Linked DNA regions of Homo sapiens: regions 2, 3 and 4 are each reported to be linked to region 1. Evidence: microRNA targets listed by miRTarBase, many of them from high-throughput screens and not tested one by one. Region 1 holds a microRNA gene; each other region holds the end of a gene's coding sequence.

What was found. Region 1 holds the annotated microRNA hsa-miR-199b-3p (ACAGUAGUCUGCACAUUGGUUA, at 1,021-1,042, shown strand). A microRNA usually pairs through its seed, bases 2 to 8, with sites in the 3' UTR of a target mRNA and lowers its output. Matches are read on the target gene's strand: a 7mer-m8 pairs with bases 2 to 8, a 7mer-A1 pairs with bases 2 to 7 and ends in A, and an 8mer does both.
Region 2: the mRNA of DDIT4 is a reported target of hsa-miR-199b-3p. Seed matches in the 3' UTR shown: 8mer at 838-845.
Region 3: miRTarBase lists PAQR5 as a target of hsa-miR-199b-3p. Seed matches in the 3' UTR shown: 7mer-m8 at 1,926-1,932.
Region 4: the mRNA of LIN54 is a reported target of hsa-miR-199b-3p. The part of its 3' UTR that is shown has no 7-base or 8-base seed match.

The regions. Positions count from the first base shown.
Region 1 is chr19:10,815,323-10,818,470 of GRCh38, reverse strand. MIR199A1 (microRNA 199a-1) reads left to right here and starts at 975; the gene lies at 975-1,045. The region is part of intron 15 of DNM2 (dynamin 2); the gene reads right to left.
Region 2 is chr10:72,274,858-72,277,857 of GRCh38, forward strand. DDIT4 (DNA damage inducible transcript 4) reads left to right here. Exons shown (of 3, transcript NM_019058.4): 3 at 1-1,179. The coding sequence ends at 331. Among named protein-coding and RNA genes, the nearest start is that of DDIT4, 2.4 kb to the left of the region's middle. RefSeq lists an enhancer at 710-1,233.
Region 3 is chr15:69,403,369-69,406,368 of GRCh38, forward strand. PAQR5 (progestin and adipoQ receptor family member 5) reads left to right here. Exons shown (of 9, transcript NM_017705.4): 9 at 213-3,000. The coding sequence ends at 454. The region is part of intron 1 of KIF23-AS1 (KIF23 and PAQR5 antisense RNA 1); the gene reads right to left. Among named protein-coding and RNA genes, the nearest start is that of KIF23, 9.5 kb to the right of the region's middle.
Region 4 is chr4:82,925,529-82,928,528 of GRCh38, reverse strand. LIN54 (lin-54 DREAM MuvB core complex component) reads left to right here. Exons shown (of 13, transcript NM_194282.4): 13 at 226-3,000. The coding sequence ends at 427. Among named protein-coding and RNA genes, the nearest start is that of THAP9-AS1, 26 kb to the right of the region's middle.

The DNA.
Region 1 (3,148 bases):
TCCCCGCCACCTCCCATTTCATCTCAGTTTCCTCATCTATCCAAGGAGGATGGAGGAGCTTGGTGCCCACTGCAGAGCTGGTGCCCATGAGCACCCGGGATTTTCTTTGGTTGCTCTTGTGAGCGGCTCCAGGATTAGCCTGCCAGGCTCTAGGCAAAGAAGTAGGGCAGAGCATAGGAAGAGGGGCCCGGTGGCCATGGAGGGAGCAGAGCATAGGAGAGGGGCCCGGTGGCCATGGAGGGAGCAGAGCATAGGAGAGGGGCCCGGTGGCCATGGAGGGAGGGATGCCGCTGCGGACCCAAGGGAGGGAAGGTGATGAAGAAAGCCTGCACCCGTCATCCCAGGCAAGGCTGGGTAACACAGGGCCTGGGTCCCTCCCACCTTTCGGGGAAGAGTTTTGGGGGCTTTAGAAGGGGCTAGGGGAGGGGGCTCTGCAGAAGCCCTGCCCCCGGCTCGGACGTTTGCCCAAGGGCCTTTGCTGCCCTGACCCTATCATATCACGCGGCCGGAAGCTTCCAGCCAGCAGGGCCAAGTAACTGAGTCACAGGCCATTCCAGCTAATGCCACATCTGGAACTGTTTACAGTGCGATTCCGCCGAGAAATCAGTGGCCGCCTTCCTGGTGCTGCCGGCACGCACGCGTGCGCGCGCGCGCACACACACACACACACGTGTGTGTGCGCCCCTCCTCCCCACCCCCGACCCCCAAAGAGTCAGACATTCCTCCTGAGCCCAGAAGCCACGATCCCAAACCCTGCCTCCTGCTCCGCCTCCCCCACTCTTTAGGATTTCCTGAAAACCCAGAACTTTCTCCAGATGCGAGCCGGCCCCAGCCTTGCCACGTCAGAAGGGACAGAGCGGATCGTCTCGGGAAGAGTGGTGGTTTCCTTGGCTGCTCAGAGGTGCTGAGGCACGGCCTGGCCTGGTGGCCCCAGCGTCTGCCTGGGGGGTTCTGCAGGATGGATAGCCGGCCCCGCCAACCCAGTGTTCAGACTACCTGTTCAGGAGGCTCTCAATGTGTACAGTAGTCTGCACATTGGTTAGGCTGGGCTTGGGTGAGCGGCTCGTCGAGACAGGCCCCCCAAACTCGCCGGCAGGTGAGTGTCATTTTCCACCACCCCGTTTCCCACTGTGGCAGAGCCTCGCATAGAAGATTCGAGGGCCTGGGTGGGAGAAGAGGCACTGGGGAAAGGCAGAGGGAGCCCCGAGGCCGGCCGAGGGGTTGGAGGCCCTGGCCCTATCAGTCTGCCATCCCCACCCCATGGCTGTAAATGTCTTGTTTATTTTTTAAATAAAGAGATATTGATGTCTTGTGTCTCACTGAGGCATCTAAGAGGGTGGCCTCCTCCTCAGGGGTGGCTGCCACGTGTGTGACTCCAAGGGTCCCTGCTGGGATCCTAACTTGGGTGGTGGCGGGGGTCAGGTTCCATGGCTGCCCCCTCCTGAATGGAGCCTGCTTTGTGTCTGGGGCTCACACAGGGCCCCTTTCACAGGTCGGCTGTTTCTCATTACGGCCGGCGCCCGGCCCTTCTCCCACTGCTGCTCCAGACTCCAGTGTGGGGCTCCACGGGAGGGTCGGGGGCTCTGGCTTTCAACTCTCAGATGAGAAAAACACGAAGGGCCCCTCACGTGAAGGAAGAGGAGATCTGAAAACTAGACTTGCAATGCTGCCAGGCAGAGAGCTGCCAGGCTGAGGTTCAGGCCCAGAGGCTCCTCCAAGGCTCGCTGCCCCAGGCCTGGCATTCCCACCCAGGGGACCCTGGAAGGTCCCCACAGCCCTGAACTGAAAGGCAGGGCACCAGCTCTCAGCCGGCCTGACAGCCCACACACCACAGCGCAGGCTGGTTTCTCACTGCAAGGCGGAAAGAGGGGAGAAAAAGAGAAAGGGCACCCTACCCCACCCCAGCCATTTTGAGGAGCCATCCGATCTGGACACGTGAGTTCCTAGAGGTGCCTGAGGCGGGGAGAAGGCTGCAGACCACGCCTGGCTCCACACTCCTCCCACATCCCAACCCCATGAGGTTCGCTGGATCTGAGGTTCTGGAAGCTTCCACAGGGACCCCAGAAATGCTTGTATGGTGGCTCAGCAGACTCCACCACCCTGGGTTTAGAAACAGCGCCCCAGAGTCCCGCAGAAGCCTCAGGGCTCCTGAGGTTTCAGGAACATTCCAGAGATGAGCGTCTGGCCTCATGTGGAGCGGGATGATCCTTTCACCCCCAATGTCCTCAGTCAAGGGGACATCAGGCCTGGGCTGCAGCGGAGGTGTTCGGATGTCGGGCTGGGGTGTCCCTCAGGTCAGGGAGCATGGGCCCGCAGACGTGCACTGGGGAAGCCTCCACCCCAGGGGGACCCTCCCCCGCTCCATGATGTGGGGCAAGTCACCGCTCAGAGCCTTAGATGGGGGTGACCACAGAGCCACCCGAATAGCAAGCGTGAGGGTTTCCTCACGGGGAGTAGGGTTCTCCTCAGGTGTGGCCTCAGTGGGCTCTCTTAGCCAATGAGCCCAGCACAGAGCAGGGGTCCATAGCCAAGAGGCCCGCCTCTCTTTGCTTCTCCCTGGGGCCAGCCGGGGCCCCCCAGCCTGCCTTCTCTCTAAGTCTGGGACTTCCAAGCCCAGTCCTGCCTATCCTGGGGCTGGGTTGGGTGCCAGCAAGTCCCCAGTGGGGGGCACTCCTACAGAGCATTCCCCCAAACCCAAGGGGAAGAGAGCCAGGCAGGGCGGCTCCAGGGGCCTCAGGCAACCCCAGCCTCTCCACTGAGGTTGCCTGGACTGAGTTGGTGGCTGTGCCATCCCAGGGACCATGGGGACTGGCCAGCTGGCCCTGCACCTGACACAGCCTCCAGCTCCTCCTCTGTGCACTGGGGGTAGGTGGGTAGGTTCCCTCCTACAGAGAGGAGCTGGGAGGACTTGATGCTGGTAGTTACCAGGACAAAACCTGGGACACATGCAGTGAGCCAGGCACAGTCCTGGGCTCAAGTACCAGAATTCCCCCACTGGTTCCCGCAGTCCAGAGGGGACAGGCCAGAGTCCTGACTTTATAGGTGGGGAGACGAGACACGAAGGGTTGACACCACCCAACCAATATCCTGGTGACTTCCGGGTGTCAAGCCCCAGCTGTCACGCTCAGAAACAACCAATATCCACTTC
Region 2 (3,000 bases), not on the chromosome of region 1:
GGTAAGCCAGGTGGGCAAAGAACTACTGCGCCTGGCCTACAGCGAGCCGTGCGGCCTGCGGGGGGCGCTGCTGGACGTCTGCGTGGAGCAGGGCAAGAGCTGCCACAGCGTGGGCCAGCTGGCACTCGACCCCAGCCTGGTGCCCACCTTCCAGCTGACCCTCGTGCTGCGCCTGGACTCACGACTCTGGCCCAAGATCCAGGGGCTGTTTAGCTCCGCCAACTCTCCCTTCCTCCCTGGCTTCAGCCAGTCCCTGACGCTGAGCACTGGCTTCCGAGTCATCAAGAAGAAGCTGTACAGCTCGGAACAGCTGCTCATTGAGGAGTGTTGAACTTCAACCTGAGGGGGCCGACAGTGCCCTCCAAGACAGAGACGACTGAACTTTTGGGGTGGAGACTAGAGGCAGGAGCTGAGGGACTGATTCCTGTGGTTGGAAAACTGAGGCAGCCACCTAAGGTGGAGGTGGGGGAATAGTGTTTCCCAGGAAGCTCATTGAGTTGTGTGCGGGTGGCTGTGCATTGGGGACACATACCCCTCAGTACTGTAGCATGAAACAAAGGCTTAGGGGCCAACAAGGCTTCCAGCTGGATGTGTGTGTAGCATGTACCTTATTATTTTTGTTACTGACAGTTAACAGTGGTGTGACATCCAGAGAGCAGCTGGGCTGCTCCCGCCCCAGCCCGGCCCAGGGTGAAGGAAGAGGCACGTGCTCCTCAGAGCAGCCGGAGGGAGGGGGGAGGTCGGAGGTCGTGGAGGTGGTTTGTGTATCTTACTGGTCTGAAGGGACCAAGTGTGTTTGTTGTTTGTTTTGTATCTTGTTTTTCTGATCGGAGCATCACTACTGACCTGTTGTAGGCAGCTATCTTACAGACGCATGAATGTAAGAGTAGGAAGGGGTGGGTGTCAGGGATCACTTGGGATCTTTGACACTTGAAAAATTACACCTGGCAGCTGCGTTTAAGCCTTCCCCCATCGTGTACTGCAGAGTTGAGCTGGCAGGGGAGGGGCTGAGAGGGTGGGGGCTGGAACCCCTCCCCGGGAGGAGTGCCATCTGGGTCTTCCATCTAGAACTGTTTACATGAAGATAAGATACTCACTGTTCATGAATACACTTGATGTTCAAGTATTAAGACCTATGCAATATTTTTTACTTTTCTAATAAACATGTTTGTTAAAACAGTTGGTTGAGTCTCTCATCAGTACCATGAAGTGAAAAGGAGGGAGATGGGTGCTAGTGAAAGGCAGGTCTCATCAGGCCCTGGGGTCCACCTGTGTGTTCCTCCATCCCTTTCCGGGACTGCCTGCCAGCCTGGTGACAGAGGTATGTGTACCGTGTGCCATCTGTGCCAAGAACCCTTGGCCCTGTGCTGGCTGAAGCTACTAGGAGAACACACTGGAAACCCCTGAAGGTAGGGGGTGAGTCAGACCTCCCACCGAGCCAGAGTCTCCAGAGGGAGAGCTCACCTGGCTGCCCCGGTTAGAAGGCCCAGACAGGAGGGCCCACTGAGCCCAAGGTCTTTAATAAACAGTGAAAGAACTAGAAAATACCTTTTTTCTTTCTGGGAGAAAAAAATCAGTTGTTCTACCATCATGAAAATTACAAATCTTATCTCTGGATTTAAAAAGACTAAGAGGGGGAGTTTGAAAAATGCTACTTAGCTCATGCCTCTCACTGGACAAGGAACCAAGAGGGGCATGAGCTGCCACTGGAAGGAAGTCTGGACCAGGCAGGTGCAGAACTCCTTGCACACACACAGGTGAGGGAAGGAGTGCTAAGGGCTTAGAGAGCAAGGAAATAGCAGGCCTACCTTAACGATACCTTGGGTCACCCAGACGTCCTCTGTGACCTGTTGTCCCAGCCACTTGGGATGCTGAAGCCAGAGGATTGCTTGAGTCCAGGAGTTCAAGGCTGCAGCCTGGGTGACAGCAAGACCCTGTCTCTAAAAACAAAAGATGCATTGTGCATTCTGGGCCCTAAGTTCCTTGTCAGAAAAATTGGCAAATTGGAGTTGGGCCAGATGAAGCCCAGGGCCTTTCCCCCTTCTTCCCTGGAATTACATCCACCCACACCAACTGGCATTTGGAGAGTTTTTATCTCCCTTGTTTCTCTTCCTGGTCCCAGACAGGCCTTGTTTGCTCAAGACTAAAACAGTGGCTCTTGCACTTGAGCGTGTGTAATCAGATCACATGGGCCCTCCTGGAGATTCTCAGTGCATCCGGGCCAGGGCCCCAGGAATCTGCATTTACATCAGGGATTCCAATAGAGGGTCCTAAACTTTACGATGACTTGGAAGACCCATCTCTCTTTGGTAGAACTGAGTGATTTGTTCCCCAAAATGGATAAACTTGGATTAGAAGTGCATTTGGAAATGGATAGTGAGAACAGTGAAGAAGGTGCCCAGACCAGTGTGAGGAAAGCCCTCACACCCATTTTCTTAGCACATCCTCCTAATAGCCACCCTGTGAGGGGTGGGTGGCGGCAGGGGTTTTTAATGTTTTACAGATTAGTAAATGGAGGCCCAAGCCCTGGAATGGTCATCTTCTTGGATAAGGGCTGACTTTGTCCACTCCCAGCCTATTGAGATTCAGGGCTGGGAGTAAAGCAAGCTTGACACCTGGGCTGAGTCTGAAGGGCACTTTCCCGGGAACTGAGATCTGTGCCAATGCTCACGACCCTGCCTCCCCAGTCTCAAAAGAGAAGCAAGGAAACAATTGTCTTCAGAGTACAGAGTCTTGTTGGTATTTGGGGGCCTGAGCTGGATGGATTGGTCAGCATTAGCCCTTCTCCAAGCCAAGGAGGCAGCTGAGCCCAGCACCGTACCTTTTCTTAGATAGTCAGACTGAGGCCAAATCAAAGCTTGGGTTCCCAAGCTAGCTCAGCTGAGATGCCCTCTCCCAGAGCCAAACTGGCTTCCCTCATTCTCACAGGGCCTGAAAATCCTCCTGCAGCAGGACAGAAGGGTCCGCAAGTGGGAGCCCTGAGCTTGAGTCTCACAGTAA
Region 3 (3,000 bases), not on the chromosome of region 1:
ACTGTTAATACCTATTCTCACCCCCTGCTTGAGGCAGCCTCTAATCTACTCTCTGTCTTTATGGATTTGCATATTCTGGAGATTTTATATAATATGTGGTCTCCTGTCTGGTTTCTTTCACTTAGCATCATTTTTAGCATGAATGCCATAGCATGTATCAGTACTCATTCCTTTTCATTGCTGATCTTGACGGCCTTTTGTGTTTGCCATAGGTCACAGTCACCAGCTGTTTCACGTGTGTGTGATCCTGGCCACGCACATGCAGATGGAAGCCATACTTCTGGACAAGACTCTGAGGAAGGAATGGCTCCTGGCCACCTCCAAGCCCTTCTCTTTCTCTCAGATAGCTGGAGCCATACTTCTGTGCATCATCTTCAGCCTCAGCAACATAATTTATTTCTCAGCTGCTCTGTATCGGATTCCCAAGCCAGAATTACATAAAAAAGAAACATGACTCAGACCATAAGCTTTTCATGCCAGATGTCAACATTAAGCTGCAACATCCTAACCACCATAAGCCGGAGGTGGTTACAGCTTATCATGGCCTAAAATATTCATAATGGTTGGTGTCTTTTGAATGAATTCATGTCAAAAATGTTATTCAGCTGGGGAAATTTCTCTAAATGTACACTGATTCTGTGTGTGTGATTTTAAAAGGAGAATATGGTTCAAGCAAGTCCTTGTTAAGGCAAACTATTGATATTTCATTAATTTTAAATTTACTTAAAATGTGGTTTTAAATTCTATTTAAACATTTGGATTAAGCATATTACTCTGGAGCTTTGTATTATTCTTTAAAAATGAATCTTGCTTCATTTGATGAATTTCATGTCACAAAGCTTCTCTCAAGAGCTCTCGTAGTGGCCTGTCAACCACTTTCGGAGAATGAGCCAGGTCAGTCACTGGGAGGACCTGTGAAAGAAAGTTGGTCACTGAGTGCCTTGGGGACTGGCAAAACATTCCAGAATGAAGAGAGCTGTCTGGGGAGAGCCCTTCTTCCCTTCTCCACCTAGTGAAGGGAGAACAGAAGGGGAGTCCTCTCTTCCCACAAGTCCATTCTGCCTTCAAAGTGTAAGTTCTCATGTCATTATGGATTTGGAGTTTGTCAGTTTTTTTCTTAAAAGTCCACAGCGGGGTGTCATGTGTTCTGTTATGTTCTGTTTTCTGGTTGCCAGTTTGATCTGCAAAGTATTTTTCAGTGCAGGTAAAATGTGTTAAACCATAAGAGTTGACTGAGTTAATCCCAATTGGTTGTGCTCATATGCCACCTTTTAAACCAATGGAAATTGCTATATTTGGGGATGTCATACATTTGATATTGCTTCAGCATTTCAAATATGTTGCAAAATTTAGTATCCATATGCATAAGAAGTTAATCACCTTGCCAGTGGGGTGGTCACATATAGTGTTCTCAAGCTTTACTGTGAATCAGAAACATCCAGTAAGCTTGTGACAAATGCAGACTCCTAGGGAAAACCAGGGGGTTCTGCTTCACTAGGTTAAATGTAGGTTTTGTAGAGGAGATCTGCACTGGAGCAAGTCTCCCAGATGATTCTAATACAGGAGGGCCAGAGGCCAAACTTGAAGAACTGCTGGTGTTACATGTTCCAAAAGGCATTAGACCTATCAGCTTTGTTTCGCCTGATCTCAAGTTTTAGCAACTCACCAACTAAGGCGTAACCTCATTTTATGTTCCAGCGTTTTCTACTCTGAATAGTTCTAAAACACTGAGCATTTTCTCATTTGTTGCATTACTGATTAAAGTTCAGTATTTCATGGTGTTTTCAGGGAACACAGAAATGCGGATGCAAAACAACTTTTGACAGAGGCCCATCAAACCCAGATCTGCACTTGGTAATGACTTAGGGGGGCTTCCTCACAATGCAGGATCCTCTTTGCTGACTCAGGAATACTCCATATTTTAGACTACTGCCTCTACCATTAACTAGCCCAGACATTTGAATGGCCTTGTAAACAGCTCACTGTCTAATACTCGAAGGACAAGTAACAATTTATATTGGATGAGAGTGGTCAAGAAATATGATTTCGTTAGTTTTATTATCTGTTTACTTCCTCTGGGGAAGGCAGACTGATAAAATTATATGGGCTGGTAAATTTTTGGTACATTAATTGCAAGCTGCATGACAAAATTTGTTTTTCTGGCAACAATCTGACATTATTAGTGGAATTCCACACCAACAGGGCTTGTGAGCTTCCATTTCATCTTACTGTAACTTCAATTTTATGGCAAAAAAAGGTACAAAGTTTAAATACCCCTTTCTAGTAATGCCAAAGACATACAGTGTTTTACATTCTCTCCTTTATAGGTAACAAAATAATGTTTAGCTCAGTAAGTACTGAAATAATGAGTGACCAATTTGAAGGATTTTTAGATTATTTAATCTTTGCTTATGTTGCTTTTTCACATGCTTAATGATGGAAATGAAATGTTAAATCAACAAAATAAGATCCAGTGTTTCATAACATTTTTATAAGTTTGGTAAACTTTAGTCCCATTATATACTTTTGGGGACAGTGTTATAAATCAGAATTTTACGACAGTTTGCAGAACACTGATTTGAAAGCTTCCTATGCAAAATGAGAAGGGGTTCAAATATATTAATTATCATTAAGTATTAAATAATAGGCATTAGATGTCTAATGTGAGTATAATTTCATCCAAGCCATCTCAGAAAGTCTAAAAGGTTGGCAGGGGGTCAGCTGAAGACCTCACTGGAGTGGGTCTTAATTTTTAAAAAGTGTCTCACTACATTTAAGACATGTGACACATTCCCATTGGTAACAATTGCTCACCATGGCATTGTCTCAAAAAAGACTATGGTGGGGAGGGTGGCACATTCCTAATGGGATGTACCTCTCCCCACTCCCCTTGCTTGAGAAGCACTACTCAAAAATTTACCAGACCTTACAACTGTGATAAAACTTGAATGTGTATGATGAATAAGGCCATTCAGTTAACTTTACCTCCCTTTACCCATT
Region 4 (3,000 bases), not on the chromosome of region 1:
TATGTTAAATTTCCTGAACAATATTCTTACAATATGTGAATAAAACCAAATTTAACTTTTTAAAGCCCTTTTTAGGATGTGCTTGTGCTCACTGTGTAAATTGTGATGCTCATCCTGCTGGTGAATTGTGAAAGTGTCAGTAGAGATTTCCAGATGAAAGAATGTTATCCACTTTTGTTGTTATTTAACACCACCATCATCTTTCTCTTTCAAAAATCATTTCAGATTGCCATTTACATTTGTAACTAAGGAAGTAGCTGAAGCCACATGTAATTGCCTCCTTGCCCAGGCAGAGCAGGCAGACAAGAAGGGAAAATCAAAGGCAGCAGCGGAACGGATGATACTTGAGGAATTCGGACGATGTTTGATGAGTGTCATCAACTCTGCAGGAAAGGCAAAAAGTGACCCTTGTGCCATGAATTGCTAACTCTTGCACAAAAGACTGATAAATGGAACTGTACAGAAAATTTAAGGTGCAGGGACACTTGATTTTCTGGAAGAAAAACAATTACTGTATTTTAATTCAGTCCTTGTTTTAAAAGACCTGAAATTATAATACTGAAGGAGAAGAAATTTTAAATGAGGAAATTAGTACATTTTAAATCTTAGTTAAATCTGCTTATGCCCCTTCTAAATTGAATTTTTCTTTATTATATAGATTTTTTAATTTGCTTGGGTTTCTTAAGAATTAGATGTTCTCTTTCTGATACCTTTGACAAAAAATGTTTATAAATTCATATAATTTATAATGTATGGTGTTGTATGACTTTGTTAATAGAAAAGCCAAAGCAGCAGTGGTTAGCACCCATTCTTTGGGACTTGATCTAGAATATCTGCAGACAGAATGTTACATAAACAAATTCTTATGAAACACATTCAAATGACATTTTGTATTTAGAAAAGGACTATCTTTTAAAGAAAAAGCAGCCTTTTAGGGCCGATTCTGGAATAATATCCTGTTGTCACTTTGGGAATGTCAGAAGGGGAAACAATCCCCAGGCACACTAAAAATTTTTTAAAGTTATTTAAAAAAACATATAAAATATTAAAGGACAGTAAATCTCAGAGGATGGGCAATGTGTTTCTATAATAAGGAAAGGCTAACAGATGCTCTGGGCTGTCTCCATTTTCTTTCAAAGAGGTGGTATGTATTTGAAGTAATAAATTGTCAAAGTGATTACTGGGTACTATTAAAATGATAGGTGGATATAAATGGAAGTAAACATTATGTAGTGATAATATAGAACCTCACATAGTAATCAAGTATAAAATTTGGCATGGGTGGAGAAACAAAGAATAGGGAAGCTGCAAAAGATGAATTTAGAGAAGTTTTCATCTATACAATCAATTATTTTTACAGACTTTTTTTTTTTTTTTTTTGAGACGGAGTCTCGCTGTGTAGCCCAGGCTGGAGTGCAATGGTGAGATCTCAGCTCACTGCAACGCCTCTGCCTCCCAGGTTCAAGCGATTCTCCTGCCTCAGCCTCCCGTGTAGCTGGGACTACAGGTGCATGCCACCATGCCCGGCTCATTTTTTGTATTTTTAGTAGAGACGGGGTTTCACCGTGTTAGCCAGGATGGTCTCGATCTCCTGACCTCGTGATTCGCCCGCCTCGGCCTCCCAAAGTGCTGGGATTACAGGCATAAGCCGCCGTGCCAGGCCCTTTTTATAGACTTTTGAACTAAGAGGTTTCAAACCAAATCGCAACTCTTACTTGATTTACAGAAATGGGCCTCCTAACAAAATTTTCAAAATTGTGGTGGGATTTCTTTTTATAAGGGAAGTTTAATATGGCATTATTTTCAGCCAGTGATTTGGAAGGTCTGTTTTCCTATAATTACTAAAATAACCTAAATCATTTTCAGTATTCAAAAACTCTATGAATTTAAGAGCCTGTTGTGACAGGACTCTTGATTTTATGACAAGAAAAAACCATGTTGGAATTCAGGCATTTTGTTAGGTACCTTAATCATCAGTAATTAGTATATGATTATTTCATTTCCTACAAGGACTCTATAGTTGTATGTATTAAGTGTGTATATATGTTCATATGAACATGCAAGATATAGGCAATAGAAATTAAGTAATCCAAAAGAGGATTCCGTTATTCACTAAAGTATCTTCCTTTTAAATTTGGATTTATAAAATCATAGTGCAGTAACTTTAAATGTAGATAGTTCAAACATTCTTAGCACCTCAATCTAGTATGTTTAATTAAAATTTGTATAAATGTAAATTAGTGTAAGAGGGTAAAATAATAATCAAGTTATTTTTCAAAAGATTGCAATAAGTTTTTGGTCTAAACTTAAACTTTGTTCATTTTGTACATACTCTGTGTTAATTCTAATTGCACCTTTGTGATGTGTATTTATATACAGTGTGCAGAAAATGTTCGTGAAATTTTGATTACAATTGTAGATTATGTATGATGGCATTGCTTACGAATGTTTTGCTTGTAAAAAAATTTCAAGGTGCAATCAAATGCTACTAGTTTTTCTGATTTTCAAAAATCTATCTATCTAAAATATTAAGCCTTTTCCTTCCTGTGTAGTACTTACTAAATAACTTTTTGTATTCAGGCATTTGCATCAAATTGCTGAACAAGATGAATAGCCACATTAATTCAATGATTTTAAAAGACTATTTGGGGAGGGTTGGGTATATAATTTTTTAGCTCTATTTACATCCCAAAGTAGAAAGATTAAATTTATATTTACTAGAGCTATTCAAAGAATACACTTTTCTATATTGTAAAAACAGGACAGCAAAGTAAATCATACAGAAAATAAACATTTATACTATTCTGTAAAAAAGGTTTTGCATTTTTTCTTTAGTATAATAACACCACTTTATTAACCATTTAATATGCAAAAAACCTTTTAAATTATCTGAAGTAAATTTGACATTACTTCTGAAAACACACAACTAAAAAATTCTATCATTTTGCTCAGTTATTACTAACATAAATTGCTTTGAAATGAGAATATGTCTTCTCTTTT